Homo sapiens: one gene and its partner. The protein of the gene in region 2 interacts with the protein of the main gene of each other region in a pairwise test. Each region holds a gene or a part of one and is shown on either strand. Other genes may lie near its edges.

Evidence for each region.
Region 1: the proteins of CTDNEP1 (region 2) and CNEP1R1 interact in binary tests that used the Homo sapiens proteins (3 or more experiments, as listed by UniProt).

The regions. Positions count from the first base shown.
Region 1 is NC_000016.10:50,017,617-50,033,118, reverse strand, and holds the start of CNEP1R1 (nuclear envelope phosphatase-regulatory subunit 1), read right to left. Parts: upstream 7,895-15,502; 5' UTR 7,804-7,894; coding exon 7,779-7,803; intron 7,469-7,778; coding exon of another isoform or gene 7,418-7,468; intron 6,724-7,417; coding exon 6,652-6,723; intron 3,395-6,651; coding exon 3,321-3,394; intron 1-3,320. UniProt on the Homo sapiens protein: Forms with the serine/threonine protein phosphatase CTDNEP1 an active complex which dephosphorylates and may activate LPIN1 and LPIN2.
Region 2 is NC_000017.11:7,245,349-7,256,102, forward strand, and holds the start of CTDNEP1 (CTD nuclear envelope phosphatase 1), read right to left. Parts: upstream 6,387-10,754; 5' UTR 5,949-6,386; coding exon 5,847-5,948; intron 1,996-5,846; coding exon 1,929-1,995; intron 1,835-1,928; coding exon 1,716-1,834; intron 1,515-1,715; coding exon 1,443-1,514; intron 1,023-1,442; coding exon 906-1,022; intron 790-905; coding exon 678-789; intron 1-677. Other genes in the region: ELP5 (elongator complex protein 5), read left to right, coding at 7,155-7,248, 7,422-7,482, 7,570-7,650, 9,235-9,455. UniProt on the Homo sapiens protein: Serine/threonine protein phosphatase forming with CNEP1R1 an active phosphatase complex that dephosphorylates and may activate LPIN1 and LPIN2.

The DNA of each region.
Region 1 (15,502 bases), on a different chromosome or scaffold from region 2:
TATCAAAAATATTTACTGAACTCTGCATTGAATGAGTGAAGATGAGGCCTCTGGTCTCAATGAAAACACAAATCAAACTTGATTTAGTTACCTTCCCTGTTTTTTTTTTTTTTGAGACAGAGTTTCACTCTTGTCACCCAGGCTGGAGTGCAATGACACATTCTCAGGTCACTGCAACCTCCACCTCCAGGATTCAAGCAATTCTCCTGCCTCACCCTCCCAAGTAGCTGGGATTACAGGCGCCCACCACCACACCCGGCTAATTTTTGTACTTTTAGTAGAGACGGGGTTTCACTATGTTGGCCAGGCTGGTCTTGAACTCTTGACCTCAGGTGATCTGCCCGCCTCGGCCTCCCAAAGTGCTGGGATTACAGGCGTGAACCACCACGCTCAGCCTACCTTTACTGTTAAAAAGCTTCCTTAAAAGAGTTGAGCAAACTCTGCCATTCATAACCTGATCCCAGTCTAATTTTCATCTCCTGCCATATTTCCACACATATGCTGCCTTGTTCACCTCTCTCCCTCCACCTGGCTAACTCTTACATATCCTCATAACACTCAATTCCAGCATCACCCCTTCCTCCCTGCAGAGGCAAAAAACAAATTTGGTTTTGAAGCTACTGAGATCTAAATGACCACAGGACATTCAAGTAGGGAAAAACGATTAGTAGCTATCCATAAAGAACTAGAACGAAGGAGAAAGAAAGGGCTGATTTCAGATCTGGACATATCAAATGATAGCAGAAAACAGGACAATCCACAAGTCTAAGAATATGTAGAGGGACAAGGGTCCAGGATCCATGACTGGAATAAGAATAGGCACCGAAATGGAAACGTTGACTGGAGACACAGAGAAGACAAGCATTTAGAGCCTGTGTAGAAAGAAATCAAGTGGATTAGTAACTAGATGGGAGCAAGAGAATCAAGTTAAGCACATCCCCACTCCACTCTCACAGCAGGAGACGCGCAGGCACGTGTTTCAAGACAGAAGCACCAGGTAGATGGCTCAGCATGGTACTGGTTACAGAAGTTTGTCAGATGAAGAAATGAGAGGCTGAAAATACCAGGAAAGAAGCTCCCAGAAAGATGATGACCCAAGGAAAAGTTAATATTCCAGAAGAACGTCTTCTTCAAACCTCCGAGGAGTTTCTCATAAGCCAGCTCTGTTGTGTGTGGCCTGCACCAGGTTAGCATATACAGTGCTTTATGTCTTCATTTTAATTAGGCCATCAGTTTCAGCCTTCCTCCCTCCATGGCAACACTCCAATGCATTGAAACAGCAGTTCTCTCCAGGCCAGGCAGTCAGGTACTTCCTGTCTGCCATATTCTTTCTCTCCCTAGGTTCTTCTACCTAGCCACTGCTCCTGAGTTTGCAACTCTTGCTACAGATACAATTGCTGGTTAAAACTCCTGTCAGGTTTGGGGTTATTAAATACTGAAATATAAAGAGCCAACCCTTAGGCGAATAGTTATATTCTCACCTAATTTAGAAAATTATATTAACTACATAGTTTTGGGCCTATTTCAAATTACATTTAATTCTGTGTTTTATTAAGATCTCAACTAGCTGAGATCAGCTTATATTTTTCCCAATTAGAAGTCAGACTCATTTCCCAAGATGGATCTTTTTCAATCTTCTTGCCAGCCTCTTTCCACTCTTCCCCTAAAGATGACTACCAAGTGCAGCCTTAAGATCAGATTTTTATAAATGAACACACAAGAGAGTTTCCTGTCTGCCATAAAAATCCTCTATTAACATAAAATTCCATCACCAATCTCCCCTTGCTTCCTATCCTTTTAAATATCTCCACCTCAGCAGATAAAGTTAGGGAGACTATATGCGAAATAAACTTCTCTGGCTGTCTGAATTGCCATGGAGACTGATGACAAAAGCCTTCTCTTAGGCTTTTCTTCTGTAAAACCTAAAAGGTACAAATAGAGCTACTGAAAGTAGTCTACTTAATTGCAGCTTAAAGCGGGGAGGGGATTTTTAAGATTTGTGAAAATTACATCATTACTCCCTAAATAAAACTGCACTGGGGGAAAGAAACTTCACTAAAAAATTGGAGACTAACTACTTCTCTAATAAAAAAAAGCCCTGAGTTTGAAATTAAAGCACAAATTAGTAGAAAGAGGTGGAAATTTGAGAAACATGCTATCAGCTTTCATCAAAGGATGCTTCAAGGAATAACATTATGAAATCAGTTATTGCATTTGGTATAGGGATATTCTTGCACAGTGCCCAGTGGGAGATCCCTCAGTGTTTCCTGTATTAAACTTCAGGCAAGAAATTTTTTTTCAGAGATAAATGTTGGGAAAGAAAAGCTTTGCTAGCCCAAGGAATTGATATATGTGTTATCTTACAGGCAATGAAAATCACAGAATTAACTGTGACTTCACTGATTAGGTAACTCAGAGACTAATTTATAATCCAATTCTGGCAAGTGTGTTGGGAAACATGGCCTATACATCAGTGAGCTGGTTTCCTTTCTGGTTTTGACCTCATGGTCCAACTTGTTTTTATCTAGTCCTGACTTTTTATTATATGTGTATTTTGCTATTTTATCATGTGTGTTTCCTGTAAAGTCATCTCCAGTGTTTTATGGGATGAAGAAAGGTATTAACAGAGATAACTCATAGAAGAAAATGTTATTTTACAATTTTTTTCTCTCCCTCTTTTTTTCTGAGACAGGGTCTAGCTCTGTCACACAGGCTGGAGTGTAGTGGCACAATCATAGCTCACTGCAGCCTCGATCTCCTGAGCTCAAGTGATCCTCCCACCTCAGCCTCCCAAGTAGCTGGGTACAGCATGCTACACTTGGCTGATTTTTAAATTTTTTGTAGAGATGGGGTCTTGCTATATGACATTGCCCAGGCTGGTCTTGAACTCCTCCCTTGGCCTCCCAAAGTGTTGGGATTCCAGGTATGAGCCACCATGCCTGGCCTATTTTAGAACTTTTAAAAGCTGGCACTGATGACACTCAATGAACAAAGCAGAATGAAGATAATACTCACACTGAAGTAAAAATGAGAGATATAAAAAAAATGTAAAAATGATAAATTCAGAAGTGAATGACAAATAACAAATAAATGTCTAAGAAATAATAGCATCTCTTAGACCTTTTCCCTGTAGACATACTTAATTCACAATAGCCAGCCAAAATCTTCCTTGAGCAAATTAATAAAAGGCATATTTTTAATATGACAATATCACTAGTAGTAGTTAATAGGTAGTGTTTGAATACTTTATCATTAACAAAGCACTACAATATCCATTATCTCATTTAATTATGCTAATGATTTTAAAACAAAACTTCTACCTTTTGTGTCTCAGGGTCTATTAACCAGTTCCAGGCACCAGTAGCTGTACAGACAGATACCACTATAAGAAGCACTGATGAAAGATAAACACGAAATTAGTAAGCAAATACATACTTAATATGTGATACTATCACCACCAGTTCCTACTAAATGACAACCAAAGAATATAGCACTTTATTAAATGGAAAATGCACTAACTAGACTCAGGAATTAGAAGGCTTGCCATCTGGCTTCGAGGAATTCTCTTAAACATTGTGAACCTTAGTAATTAAGGATACTGTTTCTCTTATGATTTGGTCAGAACTTATGATGATCAATGAAATAAAAAGCAATTCGATGGTGACACTTCAGTAGAAGAGTCTACGCTATGTAACGTTCACTGTGCTTAGTGAAGATTTTGCAGATCTTGTAAACTCAAATTAAAAAAACAAACTCATTTTCTACTGTAAACAAACCATCAAAGACTCCTTTTTGAATGTACTGAGAAGACTGACTAAAGGATTTTGCTTTGCAGATGACTGCCATGGTTACATTAAAGTCAGTGCAGGAAGTATGGAGCACACCAGTTAGTATCGGATTTTCTTTAAGAGACTTAAAGAAAGGTAGGGTAGAAATTACTGCCAGTAAAACTTAGAAAAGGTCTTTCTCTCCACTAAGCTAGAATGATTTTAGAAATTCTAAATAAATCATAAGTAAAACTTAAGAATGGTATTAGTAAAAAATAATAAAGGGGCATCAAGACCCAGTTAATATTCTGGAGATGATGACCGTTGCCTGTCTTTCAGCTAGGATGCATACATTTTTCAAATGTGGAAATTCAGTTTCCAAGAACAACAGAAATATAGCAAATATACAAATATAGTAAAACCTTAATTATCTAGAATTCCTTGATGTACTTTTAGAAGACGTAAACTAAAGAAAAAAAATCTTGTTTTAGGTATTAAATAGGATCAAAATATCAAAACTATGTTCTGAACTCAGAACAGACTGAACTCAATTTCTTACAATTCTGTATTTCCAGAAATGCACTATATTACACATGTATGTTTTAAAAAAATAAGAAAAAGCAAAATCAATACACTAGAAAGGACCTCATACACATGCTTTATTTGACTGGTTCATTAACCAAGTAAGTGCTAAGACCATGAGTCAGAGAAAAAGTAAAGTATATTTATATCACATTTTATAAGATAGGGCAGTATCATATACATTTTAAAAGATTTTCAAGTAACAGTGAAACATAGGTTTTGGGGATAATTCCTAGGTAAACCAGAGAACCTAGGAAAATCATTACCTGTAAATTCTGACCAACCAGAATTCTCACAGCATACTAATAAAACTTTGCAAATAGATTTAATAAAAATTATACAAAAAAATCTTGCCAGATCCTTAGATCCTTAGCTTCAATAGTGCTTTTTTGGTCCAGCAAACTGATTTACACTTTGAAATAAAGTAAATCCTCAATGTGTGCTACTACACTTCCTTCTTGATAGGAATTAAATCTAAATAATGACCATCTAGGAAATTAAAACTATTTGGCCCAGCGTGGTGGCTCACACCTGTAATCCTAGCACTTTGGGAAGCCAGGATGGGAGGATCACCTGAGGTGAGGAGTTTGACACCAGCCTGGCCAAAATGCAGAAACCCTATCTCTACTAAAAATACACAAAAAAATTAGCTGCCGTGGTGGCGGGCACCTGTAATCTCAGCTACTAGGGAGGATGAGGCAGGAGAATCACTTGAACCCGGGAGGCAGAGGTTGCAGTGAGCGAAGATGGCGCCACTGCACTCCAGCCTGGGCAACAGAGCTAGACTCCATTTCCAAAACAAAAACAAATAAAAACTATTCCAAACACATATTAACAAAGCATTTTGTTTGATGATCTCATGGCTCATATATTTGTCCACATTTCCTATGTATTTCCATGGGCAAGTAAGCACTGTTCAAATTATATTTTGTAGCACTCATGATACTTATGAATAGATAGTAATAATGTGAATTTTCTAGGTCAGACTTCAAAGCAGCACAATTATGCTTTGTTAAAAATCAACTAAGGGTAATTTTGTAACTTTTCCAAGTATACATTAAATAACATGACTTTACTTTTTTTTTTTTTTAAACACAGGGTCTCCCTCTGTTCCCTAAGCTGGAGTGCAGTGAACATAGCTCACTTAGCTCACTACATAGCTCACTACAGCCTCGACCTCCTGGGCTCAAGTGATCCTCCCAAGTTGCTGGGACCTCGGGGTGTGCCACCATGCCTGGCTAAATTTTTTTTTTTTTTTTTTTGAGACAGAGTCTCGCTCTGTCGCCCAGGTTGGAGTGCAGTGGTGCAATCTCGGCTCACTGCAAGCTCTGCCTCCTGGGTTCACTCCATTCTCCTGCCTCAGCCTCCAGAGTAGCTGGGACTACAGGCGCCCGCCACCACGCCCGGCTAATTTTTTTATTTTTAGTAGAGACGGGGTTTCACCGTATTAGCCAGGATGGTCTCGCTCTCCTGACCTCGTGATCCGTCCGCCTCGGCCTACCAAAGTGTTGGGATTACAGACGTGAGCCACCGCGATGGGGTCTCTCCATGTTACCCAGGCTGGTCTCAAACTCCCATGCTCAAGCAATACTCCAGCCTCGGCCTCCCAAAGTGCTGGGATTATATGCGTGACTCACTGAGCCCTATTAATATGACTCTTCTTACTAAAATTTTATTCCAATAGTTTGTAGGCAAATTATAAAACTGCTAAACGGGCTACTGAAATTTTTATTAGGTATGTCTTTATCAAAACTGTAATAATTCAAAAATTTAAATATTTTTATTATTTATTTATTGAGACCGGGTTTTACTCTTGTCGCCCAGGCTGGAGTGCAATGGCGCAATCTCGGCTCACTGCAATCCCCGCCTCCCGGGTTCAAGCGATTCTCCCACCTCAGCCTCCTGAGTAGCTGGGATCACAGGCAGCGTCACCACGACCGGCTAATTTCGTATTTTTAGTAGAGACGGCGTTTCACCGTGTTGGCCACGCTAGTCTTGAACTTCTGACCTTAGGTGATCCGCCTGCCTGGGCTTCCTAAAGTGCTGGGATTACAGGCGTGAGCTACGGCGCCTGGCCAAAAAATATGTTTTTTAATGGAAAAACAAAAACAACCACACGAAATAGACTGTTCTTTTGAGAAGGCCAGTTATAATTTCCTTTTCTTAAAAATTTCTTCATAAGGCATTGTCTACAATGTTAAATAAATTTAAACAAACATTTTACATAAAAGCAAATCATTCCTATATTAGGATAAAAGTATCAATTGTTAGTTTTCCCTTAAAATAACATTCAGGAACTTACTTCTCCAGCGTCCAGTAGCAGGTTGCAAACAATGAATATATTCAGTAAGTCTCCTCTCAAAAGCCTTGAGATCTAGGTATAAAGATGTCAATTTTCTAATTAGCCACTCTTACTCGTCTGACGAAATGTCAGAGTATTTACCTAACATTAAGACGACATGTGAGATACTCTTAACTGCTTCAGGTCTTACACACTAACTTCCATGTATCACTGCACTGTTTATTTCATTTACTATGACAGCTTTTTAAGCACTTGACAAAAAATTAGGGCTCTTTAATTCCAATTTCTCATATAAGAAAACTTGCTGATTTACTTTTAGAAGCTTCATAAATGGTATTGGGAGAAATAAGCAGCAGCCTCGGCCAGCGCCAAAAGCGAACATTTTCAGGGTTGCAAATAAAATTAAAATCAGGTCGAGTTTTAGCTCTCTGGGAACCAAGAACTTCCTATTAGAACCACGTAGTGCCTAACATCAAAGTCTTCGAGGTCTACCTGACTGCAATTACCCGCCTCCGGTTTCCAGCTCTTATATTTAATTAATGGCTACGCCGTCTGGCCTTACTAGACTTCTTGACACTGATAGCGAGTGGGTGTGGAAAGACATTCCCCTTGCCCCCTCCGAAGGGGTACAGGTGATCTTCGTGGCACCCAGGCAGCGCCTAGTTCTAGAAGACAGGGGCGTCTAAGCTGCTCCGAGTGAGTGGTGGGGTATCCTTTCCGCAGTGGTGTGCTTTAAACTTTAAAACACCGAGCAGCACTTCCTAACCTTGGCAGTTACCGGAAACCACCGCAGGAATCAGGGATACAACTCGCGGGGCTGTGAGAATGAAATGAAATGAATTAGCAGGCTGCAATGCACGAAGTGCAAGTGTCTGCCAGTGAAAAGAAAATAAAAATAGAAGCTGGCGAGGAGGTCGACCCTCTAGGTTTGTGGGGACTCAGGGAGCTGAGGCACCGCCCCCCGCGTCTGGCCAGGTACGGCCGCCTACGCGCCCCCAAGCTCCGGGCCCCTAGCTCCATCCTCTGCGGCCTCCTCCCGGGGCGGGGGTCTTCACGACGCCGGCTCCTCCGGAGCACCGCCAGCTTCCGAGGGGAGACGGGGGACGGGCCCGGGCGGCCCACCCTACCTTCCGCCTGCTCCAGCGAGTTCATGTCGGGCGGCAGCTCGGGTCACCGCCGCTGCCCTGTCCGCATCGCAGCTTCCGCGGCCCCCGCCCGGCCCGCAGCGCCAACTCCCACCTCTAACCGCTCCCCGCTGCCCCTCCCCGTCGCACCGCCCCTTGCCTAGACCCGCTACGCTCATTGGATTCCTCTACTAGACCTCCAACTAAGACAGCTTTCTATTGGCTGTCTCTTGCACCGGCCTCGGCGCCTAGCGTTGGACGGTCAGCCGGAGGGACCAAGAACTGCCGGCGGCCAGGCGGGCGTAACGCTGGCGTCGCCTGCTGCCCCGGGGAGGAACTGCAGCCCTCCGGAGCCAGTTCGTTCATTCATTTATCCCCCGTTCCCCGCTTGGTTCTTTCATTCGTCAAATGTTGATTGAGCGCCCACTACCTTCCAGGCATTATTCTGGTCGCTAGCGAGGGATACAGAAATCAAAGAGCTGGTTCTGTCCTCAAGGATCTCAAGGAGTAATGAAATCTGTACAGAACTAACTAGAACCCTAAATAACCAGTTTCCTTAATTATGGTATCCTAGATAACCAACCCCTTAAGTAAACACTTCTCTCTTGGTTACTTTCCTCTCACATCACCCAGCTTTCATAATTCCTAAATGAGGCAAAGTGTAAGCCCAAATACCTATAACTTAAGAAGAGATCTGTAAGGGATTGACTACATTTGTATTTGATCACAAGGCCTTCTTGTTCATTTATTGGTGGCATTCTTTCATTCAAAATCATTTTATTGCCTAACATGCTAGACACTGTATTGATACGCGTGTGAGCCAGGTAGACAGGATTCCTGCCCGCAAAGAGGAAGGGCTACAGCAGGCAACAAACATGCAAATAAGTAATTGATTTCAAATAAGAATAGTTGTGTTAAAATAGAGATCCTGGCCGGGCGCGGTGGCTCACGCCTGTTAATCCCAACACTCTGGGAGGCTGAGGCGCGTGGATCACTTGAGGTCAGGAGTTGAGACCAGCCTGGGCAACATGACAAAACCCTGTTTCTACTGAAAATACAAAAAAATTATCCAGACGTGGTGGTGCATGCCTGTAATCCCAGCTCTTTGGGAGGCTGAGGCACGAGAGTCACTTGAACCCAGGAGACGGAGGTTGCAGTGAGCCACTGCACTCCAGCCTGGGTGACAGCGTGAGACTGTCAAAAAAGAAAAAGAAAAAAAAAAGAATCTAAGACTGATGGGCTAGATTTTTTTGTGGCAGTAACATACCAACTTATAAACAAGACCTAAGGCCCTGCCAGGCAAGGGTTAAATCACTCAAGACCCAGACACTTAAAGAATAAACGATGTTCTAACTGCCACAATGTTCGTTTTTTTCCTCTAGCAGCTAAACAAGCAATATTAAAACAATTGCAGCTTACCAAGTACCAGTCACTGACTAACTGATCCCTTTGTTCCACAAGCCATAACTCCTGCTTTCATTAGACAAGAGACTGATTTCAGTAACTTTCTCCTGATAAGAGACCACCCACCATAGATTGGCCCTAGCCAGTCTACAGAGGCTGCACAATGAGTGCCTTTATGTTCTCTGCTTCGCCTTTTGACGTAAAGGGTCTAACTGTAATGCATTTAAATGTTAAGTCTCTACCCCAAAGTGAACATGTGACCCATGTAACATGCATGATTGTTTATTATGCATGTGTGCACCCCTCTTTCCTGAATAGCTTCTCCTATAACCTGTTAAATATGTATACTTGGCCAACCCATTTGGCATAAATTCCTGCTTCACCCTTCCTCCTTCAAAGTGCCTGCTTTTGGTCTCTGCCAGAGACCATACTTCCCAGCCTATAAGGATGGCCAGCCTGCAGGCTCCAACCCTTCAGAAATAAACCTCTTTAGGCCAGGCACAGTGGCTGATGCCTGTAATTCCAACACTTTGGGAGGCTGAAGTGGGAGGATCACTTGAGTCCAGGAGTTCCAGACCAACCTGGGCAACATAGTGAGATTCTGTCTCTACAAAAAACAAACAAACAAACAAAAAACATTTAAAAATTAGCTGGGCATGGTGGCATGTGGCTGTGGTCCCAGATACTCAGGAGGCTGAGGCAGGAAGATTGCTTGAACCCAGGAGTTCGGCGCTGCAGTGAGTTATGATTGCACCACTGCACTCCAGCTGGGGCAACAGAGCAAGACCCTGTCTCAACAAACAAACAAACAAACAAACAAACAAACAAGCAGAAATAAAGCTCTCCTCCCCAGATTTATGAACCTCATGATCCTTTAGTTGACAGTTCTATGGAGGGAGTAACAGTAATAGGATACAGTGAGAAAAAGGAAGGTTAGCAGGATCTCATGCTTTGGGAGGGCTTCATGAGGCACAGGCATTTGAGCTGAGAATGAAAAGATGGATGAGAAGAATCCAGCCATGCAAAGATGAGGGCTAAGAAGGTTCTAAGCAGCACTGCAGTTTTTCCCCTATTGGTATTTTGTGTATTTAATTCATCCTCAACCTTCCTCCTTCCCATTTGTCAGCAGAATTAATTGACACCCCCACCCACCACTTCATTTTGAAGGTTCCTCTACTATAGCACTTTTCAGTTTTCCACTTAGGGAGCCTTCCTTGGGACCAAACCCTTTCCATGTGTTATCACCCTTAACCCTTTCAGGTGATATTTTTTAAACCGTGGGTCAAAATCTAGAGAGGTTTGTAAAATCTATGTACTGATTCATGACTATTATTATTATTTTTAATTTTTTTGTGGGTTCATGGTAGCTGTATATATTTATGGGGCACATGATGACTATTTTTTTTTTAATGAATTAAGGCCAGGCACTGTGGCTCACGCCTGTGATCCCAACATTTTGGGAGGCTGGGACGGATGGATTGCTTCAGGTCAGGAGTTTGAGACCAGCCTGGGCAACACGGTGAGACCCTCTCTCTACAAAATATACAAAAAATTAGCTGGGCATGGTGGTGTGTGCCTATGGTCCCAGCTATTTGGGAGGCTGTGCTGGGTGAATCATTTGAGTCCAGGAGGCAGAGGTTGCAATGAGCCGAGATCACACCACTGCACTTCAGCTTGGGTGACAGAGTGAGACCCTGTCTAAAAAAAAAAAAAAAAAAAAAAAAAAAACTAAAAAGAAACCTAATTGGAAGTAAGGATGTGGGGTTTCATGGCCTATTGTTTCCGTTGTGTGTGGATGTGTGTGCATGCTCACCGTGTTCTCATCACAGTACAAAGCATATACCCGAGAGTTCCACTTTAAAAAAAAGTTTGAAAGTTCGAAAGTCATCACGGCCCATTTCACAACAGAGAAAGTAAAAATCAGTTTGCCCGGATCTCACAATTATTGTCATAGCCTGATTTTAAGCCCTAAGTCAAACTACCCATTTTGACTTCTTGCTCAATGTTCCATTTCTCCATCTCCAAGTCTAATTCATCACATTTCCCTTCGGCACACAGCAGTGCTTAGAGAATGGCTATTGAACATCTGTTATATGACAGGCTCTCCTGGGCTAGATCCTGGGGAGGTGAGGAGTGAAGACAGACTGATGAATAGGGCATTGCAAAGCATTGTGGTGAGTGGAGGCTTTGCTGACTTGCCTTCAAAAGGGACAGTTCTGTTAACTGCAGGGCTTTTGTTTGCCTGAGGGGGGTGTGCAAGTTTCTAGCAAGAGCTTGGGACAACAGAGGGAACAGTAAGGGCTACCTCCTGGGGTGTTGCCTCGCTATCCTTCACTCTCAACTGTGTTAAAATAAATATTGAACATGCTTTTGAAAGGGTGCATGTTATTTGCCTGTCATTGGTGTCTACATTTATGGATAGAGGGATTGGGGGACATAGGGGAGGGAGACAGGAAAATAGGGTCTCATAGTCAGGTTAAGGAATTTGGACCATGAGGTAGTTGGGGAGATGAAAAGGAACAGATTTCGGAACTTCATATCCATGGGACTTGGCAAGGAGGAGATAGTAACACATATTTAAGGAAGACGTGTTCCAGGCACTAGAGTATGAGCTGAAGATGCAAAGATCTGTAAGACTCACTCCTACTGTCTATGAAGGTAGAGTTTAGTGTAAAAACAAAAGAAGACAAAACACTAATGACCCTTAAAACAGCAATGATAAGATGAAGATCAGCTGCTAAGAGAGATCACCTATAAAATAGTTAAAGTTGGTTATCTTTTACTAGGGGGTTGCCACTCTGCCTTTTATTAGTTCAGGAGCATTGAATCTTCTTTAAACGTCACAACAACAGCTCTATGAGCCAAGGGGTGCTATCAAATTCATTTCAGAGATGAGTTTATAGATGAGTAGATGAGTTGATCAACCCTGAACCCTGTAGCTGGAGATATATTCCTTCTCTCTCGTTCTCTCTTTCCACGTGGTACATCAGATCAGATAGCAAACCCTATTAGCTCTACCCTCAACATATATTAAATATTTCAGTTTGGACAACACAGTGAGACTCTGTCTCTGAAAAAAATAATATTTGGACGTGGTCCCAGCTACTGGGAAGGCTGAGGTAGGAGGCTTACTTGAGCCTGGGAGGTTGAAGTTGCAGTAAGCTATGATCACACCATTGCACTCTAGCCTGGGTGACAGCAAGACCTTGTCTGAAAAACAACAAAAACAACACCAAAGAATCACTTCCCACCACCTTCACTACTACCTGGTCCACAGCACCATTTGGGCTTGATTACTGCAGTGGCCTCTAACTGGCTTCCAGCTTCTACTCCGTCTCCAACAGTGCTTTGTAAAACACTAAAAGATAGCATGGCTCTCCTGCTCAGAACCCTCTGGTGGCTCCCTAAAATGATTATAACAGTGACAGTGATCTTCATACAGTTTCTCTTGCTGTACCTTGTAAAATAATTTTGACAAGATTATATGCCATGTCACATGTTTGTAAAATGATATCACAAATTTTCATCATGGGTTTAAATACTTGTAAAAGATGTAATTTCTGGTAAGTTGTAGGTATTGACATTTGGAAAGAAAGCTATTTCGTCATTCTTTTTTTTTTTGAGATGGAGTCTCACTTTGTCACCCAGGCTGGAGTGCAGTGGCATGACCTCGGCTCACTACAACCTCTCCCTCCCCGGTTCAAGCGATTCTCCTGCCTCGGCCTCCCTGAGTAGTGGGACTACAGGCACATGCCACCATGCCCGGCTAATTTTTCCATTTTTACTAGAGATGGGGTTTTGCCATGTTGGCCAGTCTGGTCTCCAACTTCTGAACTCAGGTGATCTGCCCACCTTGGCCTCCCAAAGTGCTGGGATTACAGGCGTGAGCCACTGCACCTGGCCCATTGCATCATTCTTTTAAATGTATTCAATGGAATAGAAATACCATGGCAGGTTGATATTCACCACCATCCTTTAAAAAATATATGAATATCTCAGCTGGGCATGGTGGCTCACACCTGTAATCCCTGCAGTTTGAGAGGCCAAGGTGGGCAGATCACTTGGAGTCAGGAGTTTGAGACCAGCCTGGCCAAAATGGCAAAATCCTGTCTCTACCAAAAAATATAAAAGTTAGCCAGGTGTGGTGGGGTGTGCCTGTAGTCCCAGCTACTCGGGAGGCTGACACACAAGAATCACTTGAACCCAGGAGGAGGAGGTTGCAGTGAGCCGAGATTGCACCACTGCACTCCAGCCTGGGTGACAGTGTGAGACCCTGTCTCAAAAAAGAAAAGAAAAAAAAATGAGTATCTCTTATGAACATAGACAAAAAATTCTCAAAAAAATTAGCAAATCAAATTCAGCAACATATCAAAAGTATTATACACCACGATGAAATGTGATTTATCCCAGGAATGCAAAGTTAGTTTAGCATCAGAAAATGCGTTCATATAATATGTCGTATCAGTAGAAAAAAGGACAGAAAACACACAATTTCATAAGGATGCACTCATATATTGCTAGTAGGAATTTAAAATGGTGCAGCCACTTTGGAGAATAGTTTGGCAGTTCCTCAAAAAGGTGAACATCAGATAAACATACAGTTGCTATATGAACCAGCAATTCTTCTCTTAGGTATATATCCAAGAGAATTGAAAACATACATTTAAGTAAAACCTTATGCATGAATGTGCATAGCAGCATTATTCCTAATAGCCTAAGAGTGGAAACAATTCAAATGTCCATCAAATAATGAATGGATAAACAAAATGTGAGGTAAATACACAATGGGCTATTACTCTATTTTGCAACAATGAAAAAGAATTAAGTACTGAAATGTTACAAAATGAATAAACCCTATGTTTCCATTCATATGAAATATTCAGAGTAGGTAAATCCATAGAGGCAGAAAGTAGAATTCTGGTTGCCAGGGAAAAAGAAAATCAGGAGTGACTAACAATAGATACAGGATACTTTATGAGGGTGATGAAAATGTTGTGGAATTAGATGGGGATGATGGTTGCATGACTTTGTAAATATAATTAAAACACTGAATTGTGTATATGTATATATATATATATATATTTTTTTTTTTATTTTTTTATTTTATTTTTTTTTTTTGAGATGGAATCTCACTCTGTCACCCAGGCTGGAGCGCACTGGTGTGATCTTGGCTCACTGCAACCTCCACCTCCTAGGTTCGGGTGATTCTCCTGCCTCAGCCTCCCAAGTAACTGGGATTACAGGCATGCACCACCACATCCAGCTAATTTTTGTATTTTTAATAGAGACAAAGTTTCTCCATGTTGGCCAGGCTGGTCTCAAACTCCTGGCCTCAGGTGATCCAGCCGCCTTGGCCTCCGACTGTTCTGGGATTACAGGTATGAGCCACCAAGCCTGGCCTGAATTGTATACTTTGAAAGGGTTAATATTTTTACTTAAAAAAATATTTCAATAGGTTTTTGGGGGAACGGGTGGTGTTTGGTTACGCAAATAAGTTCTTTAGTGGTGATTTCTGAGATTTTGGTGCACCCATCACCTGAGCGGTGTACACTGTACCCAATGTGTAGTCTTTTATCCCTCACCAGCTCCACCCTTTCCCTGAAGTCCCTGAAGTCCATCGTGTCATTCTTATGCCTTTGCATCCTCATAGCTTAGCTCTAAAATGGTTAATTTTATGGCACGTAAATTATATCTTAATTTTAAAATATATCATTAACTTCTGTGCATCAAAGCATAACACTGAGAAAGTGAAAAGACAACACACAGAGTTTAATGAAATATTTGCAAATCATATATCTGGTAAGGGACTTGTATCCAGAATTTATTTATTTATTTATTTATTTTTTAGTTTTATCCTTTTATTTTTTTTGTAAAATTAAACAAACATACCAAAAAAGTTTTCTGTGTCTACAAAATGTAACAAGATGGAGACCATGTTAGTCTTTTAGAGCAGGGGGCCACCAAACCCCAGGCCAAGGACCTGTACTGGTCTAATGCTTGTTAGGAACCGGGCCACATAGCAGGAGGTCACTAACAGGCAAGCAAGCATTGCAGCATTACCGCCTGGGACCAGTTTTATGGAAGACAATTTTTCCACGGACTGGGGAGGTGGTGGGGGGATGGTTTCCGGATGAAACCGTTCCACCTCAGATCATCAGGCATTAGTTAGATTCTCATAAGGAGTGTGCATCCTAGATCCCTCGCATGCGCAATTCACAATAGGGTTTGCACTCCTATGAGAATGTAATGCCCCTGCTGATCTGACAGGAGGCAGAATTTATTTTTTGAAAGAAAAAACCTCTTATATCTCAACAATAAAAATA
Region 2 (10,754 bases):
CAACTACTGAGAGGCTGAGGCAGAAGGATCACTTGAGCCTGGGAGATCGAGGCTGCAGTGAGCTATGATCATGACACTGCACTCCAGCCTGGGAACAGAGTGAGACCCTATCTCAAAAAATAAATAAAAATAAATTTTATTTTTATTTATTTATTATTTATTTTTTTTGAGACGGCGTCTCGCTCTGTCACCCAGGCTGGAGTGCAATGGTGCAATCTCGGCTCACTGCAACCTCCGCCTCCCGGGTTCAAGCGATTCTCCTGCCTCAGCCTCCCGAGTTGCTGGGATTACAGGCGTGCGCCACCACGCCTGGCTAGTTTTTTCTATTTTTAGTAGAGATGGGGTTTCACCATGTTTGTTAGGCTGGTCTCGAACTTCTGACCTCGTGATCCGCCTGCCTCGGCCTCCCAAAGTGCTGGGATTACAAGCATAATCCACCGTGCCCAGCCAAAAATAAATTTTAAAAATGAAAAAAATGATATAAGAAATCCGACTTATGAAATGGACATATATGGTATCTCATTTGAAACACAAAAATAACTTGCATTTCGACTTACAGCAAACTAGGGATAATCTAGGGAATCCCAGCTCTCAAGGACCAAAGCCCAGGTCTCCTGCAAAAATACCTTCTCAGAACCATGTTCTGGTCCTGCCAGACTCACCACCTTCCCCCGTACCTGGATGGCTCCTGTAAGCCCCTGGGGAGTTATCCAGGATCACAATGCTGGAGAGGTCACTGTGGACCACAGAGAGGTCCTTGATGTAGCTGCCCAACTCCAAAGTGCAGTGCTGGAAGGCAGGGGATCATGTAGCAGGCCTCTCTCCAGGATACTCTCCTCAAACCCAGATCCCTCCCTGGTGGCCTCCCTCCCAAGCCACACTCTTAGACTGGGATTCTAGCTTACCTGTCTGTAATATCTCCTCTTAAGAATGCTTCTGCTATTGTCCAGTTTATCTGCCACAGCAGAGCCATAGATCTCCATGCTTGCTGTAAACACCACCAGCTCGTACCACTGGCTCACCTGAAATAGATTGGGGGAGAGGGCGATGCCATACAAGGTGATGATTCCTTTAGACATACAGTTATCTTTCAGAAAGGCAATGGCATAGTCCTTCAGGCCTTCCATCAACATCAAATGTCTCTGAGGACACGAAATTCTGAACCCCCAGCCCAAACCTCCAAACTCAGTGTTAGGCATCCTACACTCTTATGATTCAGAAATGCAAGAACAAAAGAGAAAGATGCCAGCGGAAAAGAATTACATCAGCACAACAAATGAACCCCAAGTACTGAAAGCCACTCCCCTACCATTACACAGCCTCCCCTCTAGAAAACTGCTCTAACCCGTTTCTCCTCACCCCTTCCTCCAAATCCTCCCAATTCCCAGAGCCCTAAAACCATTCCTTCATTACAGAGCTCCCTTTAGCTCTCCAAAACTCACCACTTCCAGGAAGAAATCCACATGGGGCCTCTTATGTACAAAAAACCGGACAGGATGTTTGTCTATTACCACCTACAGAGGAACAAGATGGGCTGGGGGATGTCATGACCACCACAACCCAGGCCTAGAAAACGCCCCACCCATCTGCTTCCCTCCTCCAGGCTGACACTGGTGCCAGCGGATGGAGACAGATGCTCTGGGACTGGGAAAGGGAGTCCAGGTTTGGGCAGAGGAACAGATGGAACCATTTCATCACTCCCCACCACCACACACCTTGAGGATGAAGTCAGGAGGCGTACCAGGCCGGACTGTGGGCCTCAGGACCCCATCATGGTGGGAGTGAATAAGTGTCTCATCCAGATCCAGCACCAGGATCTTCCTCTTCACCTGGGCTGAACCAGAGTGGGGAGGAATAATATTGACCGACCTCTGACCCAGAGCTAGCCCCTACTTCACCCTAAAGGAGGCTTCCCACCACATACTTACCTAGCCGATTCCGGGACACAGGAGATAAGGGGAGGATATCATATCGAACAGTTTGGTACTGAATTACCTACAAATAGCACAAAAGAGGATTGAAACCCTTGATAAGGAAGCCTTCCCCAGTAACAGTAACAGGGAGCACATAATGAACATTTACCACAGGTACTATGTATGTAATTTAGGCTTATTTCTTCTTCTTTTTTTTTTTTTTTTGAGATGGAGTCTCGCTCTGTTGCCCAGGCTGGAGTGCAGCGGCATGATCTCGGCTCACTGCAACCTCCGCCTCCCAGGTTCAAGCAATTCTCCTGCCTCAGCCTCCCTAATAGCTGGGACTACAGGCGTGCACCACCACGCTCGGCTCATTTTTGTATTTCTAGTAGAGGCGGGGTTTAACTATATTGGCCTGGCTGGTCTCAAACTCCTGACCTTGTGATCCTCCTGCCTTTGCCTCCCAAAGTGCTGGGATTACAGGAATGAGCCACTACGCTGGCCTTTTTCATTTAATCCTCAAAACAACCATAATATTACTGTTATACCTGTTTTAAGGTTAAAGAAACTGAGGCCACACAGCTAGGAATTATCTTAAGTTGTTTCTCTCCCTAATTAAAATGAAAACTCCATGAGAATATGATTTTGTCTAGATCATGGCTGTATTCCCAGTGCCTAGAACACAGTAGCAAAAGTGGTCAGTTGATATTAGTAGAATCAGCCAGGCGCAGTGGCTCATGCCTGTAATCCCAGCACTTTGGGAGGCCAAGGCAGGCGGATCACAAGGTCAAGAGACGGAGACCATCCTGGCCAACATGGTGAAACCCCGTCTCTACTAAAAATATAAAAATTAGCTGGGCGTGGTGGTGCGTGCCCATAGCCCCAGCTACTCGGGAGGCTGAGGCAGCAGAGTGGCTTGAACCCAGGAGGCAGAGGTTGCAGTGAGCCGAGATCGCACCACTGTACTCCAGCCTGGTGACAGAGCAAGACTCCGTCGCAAAAAAAAAAAAAAAAAAAAAAAAAAAAGTAGAATCAATGAAGTGATAGAGCCAGGATTGTACCAATGCAGTTCAACCCAAGAACGTGCCCTCTTTTTTTTTCTTTTTTTTTTTTTTGAGAAGGGAGTCTCACTCCATTGCCCAGGCTGGAGTGCAGTGGCGCGATCTCAGCTCACTGCAACCTCCACCTCCCAGGTTCAAGCAATTCTCCTGCCTCAGCCTCCTAAGCAGCTGGGACTATAGGCGCGCGAACCACGCCCAGCTAATTTTTGTATTTTTAGTAGAGACGGGGTTTCACCATATTGGCCAGGCTGGTCTTGAGCTCCTGACCTCATGATCCACCTGCCTCAGCTTCCCAAAGTGCTGGGATTACAGGCAAGAGCCACCACCCCCGGCCGAAGCTGCCCTCTTAACTGTGATATTATCCTGCTACACTGAACAAAGAAACGACCCCCACAACGCAACCTTCACCCCAAGAATTATTTGTAGCAACTACCATCATTGGGAACTAAGTGCCTCAGATTCCCTAGTGCACATGGAGTAGGAGTCGGGAGGAGATCCCTGGGTCCTTAATGGGAATATAGAATGAGGGAATCCAGAGGTTGTCAGGTCAGCTAAGTTCCTCTGGCTAGAAGCCACCAGGCCTATTTTAACCAGCCACCTGTCCACTTCTGTCCCTTCTAGCCAAGTCACAAGTTCAGAGAACCTCAGCCCTCTGAACAGTCTCCTTATCCTGGTACCCAGGGTGAGGCAAAGAACACTGGAAAGCCCCTGCCAGGCTGACTGGCAGGGTCTGGAGGAGGCCAGAGTGAAGTCAGGGCCGTTAAGTGAGAGGTGAATAAGGGACAAGGACGTCACCACCTCATCCAGCTCTGCTTCTCCAAGCATTCTCTAGGGGCTATTTCCTAATACGCACATCTCCCCATACAAAGCCTGGCAATTCCCTCTTCCACACTTTTCTTCAAAGGTACAAACCCTCTTCAGTGCATACCTAGGCCCCAAGCCACACCAGAACCAGGTTCTCCCTTCTAAACCCACAGGGCTCTCTCCCCCTAATCAAGATCTGCCCTTCTTTTCTCCCTGGGCCATGATGAGGTCCGAAAGAGCTCCAGTGTCCAGCCTTGCTATCTCGGGTTGCATATGCTGGGCATGTAGGGAATGCTCCAAGCATCTGCCAGAAGCGGGGTGGGGAAAGAAACCAGATTGGAAGGGAAGGGAGGACAAAAGGCTATGGGGTCAGTGCTGCCCAAAGGAGAGCAATTTTGGAAGTAACCTGTGGATGAGCTGAAGCACCACTCCGTATGCCCAGAAAACTGATGTGTTGGAGCGAGAACGTCAGAGAAGATGGCAGTCAACCCATAAAGAAAACCGCTGGAGGCCGGGTGCAGTGGCTCAATCCCAGTACTTTTGTGAGGCCAAGGCGGGCAGATCACTTGAGGTCAGGAGTTTGAGACCATCCTGGCCAACATGGTGAAAACCCGTTTCTACTAAAATTACAAAAATTAGCCAGGTGTGGTGGCAGGTGCCTGTAATCCCAGCTATTCGAGAGGCTGAAGCAGGAGAATCGCTTGAACCCAGGAAGTGGAGGTTGCAGTGAGCGGAGATGGCACCACTGCACTCCAGCCTGGGCGACAAAGCGAGACTGTCTCAGAAAAGAAAAGAAAACCCCAGGAGATAGCCCCACACATATCCCAGCATCTCTGACCCTAAATTTTTCTTGGCTCCTAGCTCTTGTCTCGGGGGAATAGCGCTGCTGCCTACAGCCACAACCATCCTGTACTGTTCGCGCCCTAAATCAGGAAGTGGAAGCAGACTGGTAAAGGACAGAATGAACCCAAGGCCAGACCCATTCTCCCAAATCAGTTAAATCAACCACCACTACCACTGAGGGCTTTCTGGAAATTCTCTGGACCCCAGGTCACCCCAACCTGGGTTTATTCTTTCAAATTGTATTGAGGTATGCTAAGGGGTACAGACCACAGTACAGACCCAGAACCTGTGTCTCCGCTTACTAAATTCTCCCCAGACTCCTTCCGAGGATTCTCCCTGGTGGTGGTGAGACCACAAGAGCACATTCATTTAAAGTGCTGTTAGCTGAAGGACCTCTGACCTTGGAGAAAAGCTAAGGGAGAGGGGACCCAGAGATGCTTGGGTCCATCCGGACAGTTTCCCTCAGAATGCTAGGCTCTCCTGGAGAAGCAAACGTCCTCATTTTCAAGCCCTACAACTGCCCAGCGCTGTCCTCTGACAGGGACACCCAAACTTCAATGGTGGGCACAGCACCCACCTTGAACTCCCTCCCACAATTAAAGAGGCCCATCGTAAAAGCATCTGCTTTAGTCTTCAATAAATCCAGATACCTACACTCACACTATGAAATAAATTTTCACAGCCTTTTTGGAGGAATTCTCTTAATGGGAACCGCAGGCGTTTCTCCTTCACACCCAGGGCTTTCCCAAGTTCCCGTCCTTGTTTGTAACGTATGCCCTCCCACCCACCTCCACCCTTGACACACAAGTCTGTCTCTTCCTTGTTATAGGACCAAACACACACCGAGGTTCCAAATAGGGTCTTTCCCAAGCCCACATCCACAGATCCGGCTGTCATCAAACAGGTGTTCCCCGCCTCTTGGTTTCTTTAGCAACAACTCCAGCTTTCTTAAAGAGCGCCCCACCCACCACCTTAGCCCCCAAGAGTTGCCAAATCCTGTCCCATCTAGCCCCATCAAAACCCCCAAGGGCAAGGTTCTATTACAAGGGTCTCCCACCTCGCCCCGCTTAGGGTGCCCAATTCTCTGGCGAGAAAAGCCCCAGCCAGGATTCCCTTCCTAGGCCCAAACAGAGGCCCGACACTCCGAAAACCCCTGAGCACCACGGACAGATGTCCCCAACACCGCCAGACGTCCCCAACACCGCCAGCGCCCACCCTGGCTCACCGTGCGGATCTGCCTCCGCAGAAGGTAAATGAAGAAGCTCCAGAGCTTGGCGGCGAAGGCCACGAACGTGCGCAGCCCCAGCAGACACTGCGTCCGCATCATCCCGATGACCCCGGCACCGCCGGCCCCGGGGCCCCCGCGGCCCAGCTCCGCCAGCCCCCCGGGGGCAGCCCCCCGCCGCCGGGAGGGGGAACGGGGGCCCCGAGTGGCAGGAGAGGCTGCAGAGAGGGGCACGGAGCGGGCGGCTCAGAAAGCCACCCCTGGCGAGGGTAAAGCCCAGCGGAACGGGGAGCTGGGGGACAGGCGTGGGCAGCCCGCGGGGGCCCACATGGGCTGGGAGTGGCACCGACGGCTTCGGGGAGGTTGCGGGCCGAGACAGGTAGGGCTAGGATGGGGTCCTCCGAGACCTGGAGGGAAGGGGAAGGATAATTGGGGGAGGGGGCAGTGGGGGAGGGGGCTAGGGAAAAGGGAGGAAGGGAAAAGGGAAGGGGAGGGGGGGAAAGCAGAGAGTGGCCCGCTGCGCAGGCGCGCTAGGGGGCTGCTCGCAGGAACGGGGAGGGCGGGGGCAGCGGCGCGCAAAGGGCCGCGGCAGCGGAGAACGGGCCTGCAGAGCGAAGGAGCAGGGAAGGAGGGGGAGGGGGAGCCGGAGGGCGCAGAGCGCTGGGCCGGAGCGGCCTCCCCCTCCCCGAGCTCGGGGGTCCTTTAGCCGCTGGGGACCGGGGCTGCAGCCTCTGCAGCTGGGTTTCCCACTCTGACAGGCGCCATTTTACCGTCCAAAGGACTCCCTCTTCCTGTCTTTCCCCCTCCTCTTCCCCTTTGACACTACTTCCGGTGGTGACGTGTATTCGCTTCACCGGGACTAAGTTCCTCCTGCGCGGTCTATGGCGGGTAGGTATAAGGAAAGCCAAAAGCACTCCAAGCGAGGCTGCAGTATTGCGCACGCGCAGAAGGTGGCCGCGGGGCGGGGCCTGAGGCGAAGCAGGCCCCGCCTCAAACTGCGTGGGCGGGGAGAGTGACGTCACTTGGCCCGCGCTTAGGGCCCTCGCGGGGGGCTTGTGGGTCCTCCTCCCCCTCCCACTGACAACTGCCCCAACTGCTCTTCCCGCCCCGGTCACAGTGAAAATGTAGACGGGGTCGTTGTCCGTACGACTGTGCGCCAGGGCTCGGGGAGGGGCGCCCTCCGCGTGAGCGCCCCCCTGGGAATATTGAACATAATCACCTCTCATTCCAGACTATGTTAGGTCTTAATGGTGGGAGGACGCCCGAGTGCTCGGCCCGTTTCACCCCGAGGAGGAAGGACACTGGGTCATGACGCCATCAGAGGGCGCCAGAGCAGGGACCGGACGCGAGTTGGAGATGTTGGACTCGCTGTTGGCCTTGGGCGGCCTGGTGCTGCTTCGGGGTGAGAGCCAGAGGCACGGTGGCGGGGCGGGGGGTGCGGTTCGGGCCTGGCTGAGGGGACGGAAGTGGGCAGGAAGGGCCAGGGGTCACAGGCTAGGTGTGGAAATCGCGACGGGTTCGCGAAGGCGGTAATCCCAGCGCTCTCATACCCTTTATCCGTCCCTCGCTCTGCAGATTCCGTGGAGTGGGAGGGGCGCAGTCTCTTGAAGGCGCTTGTCAAGAAATCTGCACTGTGGTGAGTATCCCACAGTGTCTCCCCGGCCTACCCTGGATAGGGCACCTGTGCCCACTCTTTGACAATCCCTTCTCATCTCTGCCTTAGTGGGGAGCAAGTGCATATCCTGGGCTGTGAAGTGAGCGAGGAAGAGTTTCGTGAAGGTTTTGACTCTGATATCAACAATCGGTAAGTACCAGTTGGAAGAGATTTGATTAAATTTGAGACCTATAATGCTAAGGAAATTTCTTTACAACAAGCGCAGAACCTGGTATGTAGTAGCAGTTCCTTAAATATTCATTGAAGAATTGGATATGGATCTTTCAGGAGGCAAGAATTAATAAGAGGAGTGATGAGTATTTGGGGAGTCCAAAGCAAAGATCATAGAAGTCGAGAGAGAAATAGCCTGGAAATAGGGAGAACATGTGGGAAGGGTATTGCAGTAATCCGTTAATCCGGCTTCACTCTTTAAGGTACATATGTACCGAGCACCAACTATCAACCAGGTGCTGTGCAAGATACTGGAGACGGCAGTGAGTGAGACCTGTTCCTGACCTAATGAATTTTAGGGAATAATGGTAGGAAGTGATAGAGGCCTGGTTTAAGGCAGTGGCAGTAGAGATGGAAAGTTTAGAACACATGTAAAGGACTTTAGTGGGTAGAATTTCCAGGATTTATTGACTAATATGGGGGAGAAGAAAGTATTGAGATAAGGAAGTTCCTAAACCCAGCGGCATGCCTGATCAGGAGACATTAAGAACCATTAGTAGGATGCTTTCTACTTCCTAGTCCCGGCAACTCAGTGGATGATAATAGTAGTTTACATCTTATCTGTTGAGCCTCCAATTTTGCATCAGCCATTGTTGTGATAGAGGCGGTGGTGTATGTTCAGATGGCATTCCATGGCTGGGCGCGGTGGCTCACGCCTGTAATCCCAGCACTTTGGGAGGCTGAGGCGGGTGGATCACCTGAGGTCTGGAGTTCGAGACCAGCCTGACCAACATGGAGAAACCCCATCTCTACTAAAAATACAAAAAATTACCTGGGCATGGTGGCACATGCCTGTAATTCCAGCTACTCAGGAGGCTGAGGCAGGAGAATCGCTTGAACCCAGGAGGCAGAGGTTGCAGTGAGCGGAGATCACGCCATTGCACTCCAGCCTGGGCAACGAGCGAAACTCTGTCTCAAAAAAAAAAAAAAAAGCGGGCACTCCACAAGAGAAGATAGAAAAGAGATATCTGGGAAAAAAAGTTCTGCTACCTATGCCAGTCTCCCTTTCCTGAGCTGTTTTTTCTGTAGTTGTTACTTCTTGACTTAATTCTTGACTTTCTTTAAGCTGTTCTACAGGCAGGACCAAATCTCACGTCCTCTGCTTTCTCTTTTTTCACCCAGGGTGATAATCTTTAGGTGCCACACACAGGAAATATTTGATAATGGTGATAACTAACATTTATCAGGCATATACTATGTGTCAAGCACTGTGCTGAATGCTTAGAGGTTGGCATCTCATTTCACCAATGAGGCAACTCTTAGAAATAATGTATCAGTTAGCTGACCTTGGGCAAGTAGCAAAGCCAAGCTTGGAGATCAGGCTGTCAGACACCAAAGTCTGTGCTCTCAATCACTGTATGCTCTCTCTCAGTAATTATCTTTCACTAATATTTAGGATATTCATAAAAATTGAGAAAACAGCCATAAAGATCAGAGGATGAACTTTGTGATCCTCTCGGGGGAAGGGGCAATATTATATTGTGTCTTATTTTCCCTTTGCAGGCTGGTTTACCATGACTTCTTCAGAGACCCTCTCAACTGGTCAAAAACTGAGGAGGCCTTTCCTGGGGGGCCGCTGGGAGCCTTGAGAGCCATGTGCAAGAGGACAGATCCTGTTCCTGTCACCATTGCTCTCGATTCACTCAGCTGGCTGCTACTTCGCCTTCCCTGCACCACACTCTGCCAGGTCCTGCATGCTGTGAGCCATCAGGACTCTTGTCCTGGTGAGACCCCTCCTTCATTGTTTCCCCTCATACATCTCCCTCTGCCAAGGAGTGTGCCCCTTTTCCTTTCTACCCTAGAATAAACATCTGGGTTCTCCAGTCAGACCTTTTTTCATTTTTTTGACTTTTTTGTCTGTTTTTTTTTTTTTTTACTTCTCCTTAATGCCATCTACCATTTGCTTTTTTTTCTCCAAGTTATTTTTTTACTCATTTGTTTCACTCATTCATTCATTTAACAAATCAATAGTAAATATATACAATGTGTCAGGTACAATTCTAGATAATGGCAAAATACAGACTGACTGTAGCTGGGTCCTTGCCTTCCAGGAGCTCGAAGTCCCATAAAAGATGGAGATAAGTAAACAGGCAGTTACAAGATGGTCTGATAAAGGCCATGATGATACAGGCATGCACAGGGCACCTTAAAGAAGGGCACTCTTGGCCGGGCGCGGTGGCTCACTCCTGTAATCCTAGCACTTTGGGAGGCCGAGGTGGGTAGATCACAAGGTCAGGAGATCGAGACCATCCTGGCTAACATGGTGAAACCCCGTCTCTACTAAAAATACAAAAAAAAATTAGCCGGGCTTGGTGGCGGGCACCTCTAGTCCCAGCTACCCGGGAGGCTGAGGCAGGAGAATGGCGTGAACCCGGGAGGTGGAGCTTGCAGTGAGCTGAGATGGGCCACTGCACTCCAGCCTGGGCGACAGAGCAAGACTCCATCTCAAAAAAAAAAAAAGGCACTCTCTTGAAGAGCAAGAGGTCATCCAGGCAAATTTGGCCGGGCAGGGGCACTGAGACTAGCCTTGAAGTGCACTGTGGGTACTCGAATGGACTTAGGAGTCAGACGCCCAGCTTTGTATTAAGGTGCTTGATCTCTCATTGCTTCACTTTCCCCTGTATATGGGGGAAGGTACAAGGGAAGTATTAGGATGAACCACTATATTGCCATTTCTTAGGTTAAAAGTTGTTAAATATTGTCTGGGCGCAGTGGCTCATGCCTGTAATCCCAGCACTTGGGGAGGCCAAGGCGGGCGGATCACCTGGAGTTGGAGACCAGCCTGGCCAACATGGTGAAACCCTGTCTCTACTAAAAATACAAAAAATTAGCTGGGTGTGGTGGTGCACGCCTGTAATCCCAGCTACTCGGGAGGCTGAGGCAGGAGAATCACTTGAACCCAGGAGGCAGAGGTTGCAGTGAGCTGAGATCACGCCACCGTACTGCAGCCTGGGTGACAGAGAAAGACGTCATCTCAAAAAAATAAAAACAGTCCGGGCGCAGAGGCTCATGCCTGTAATCCC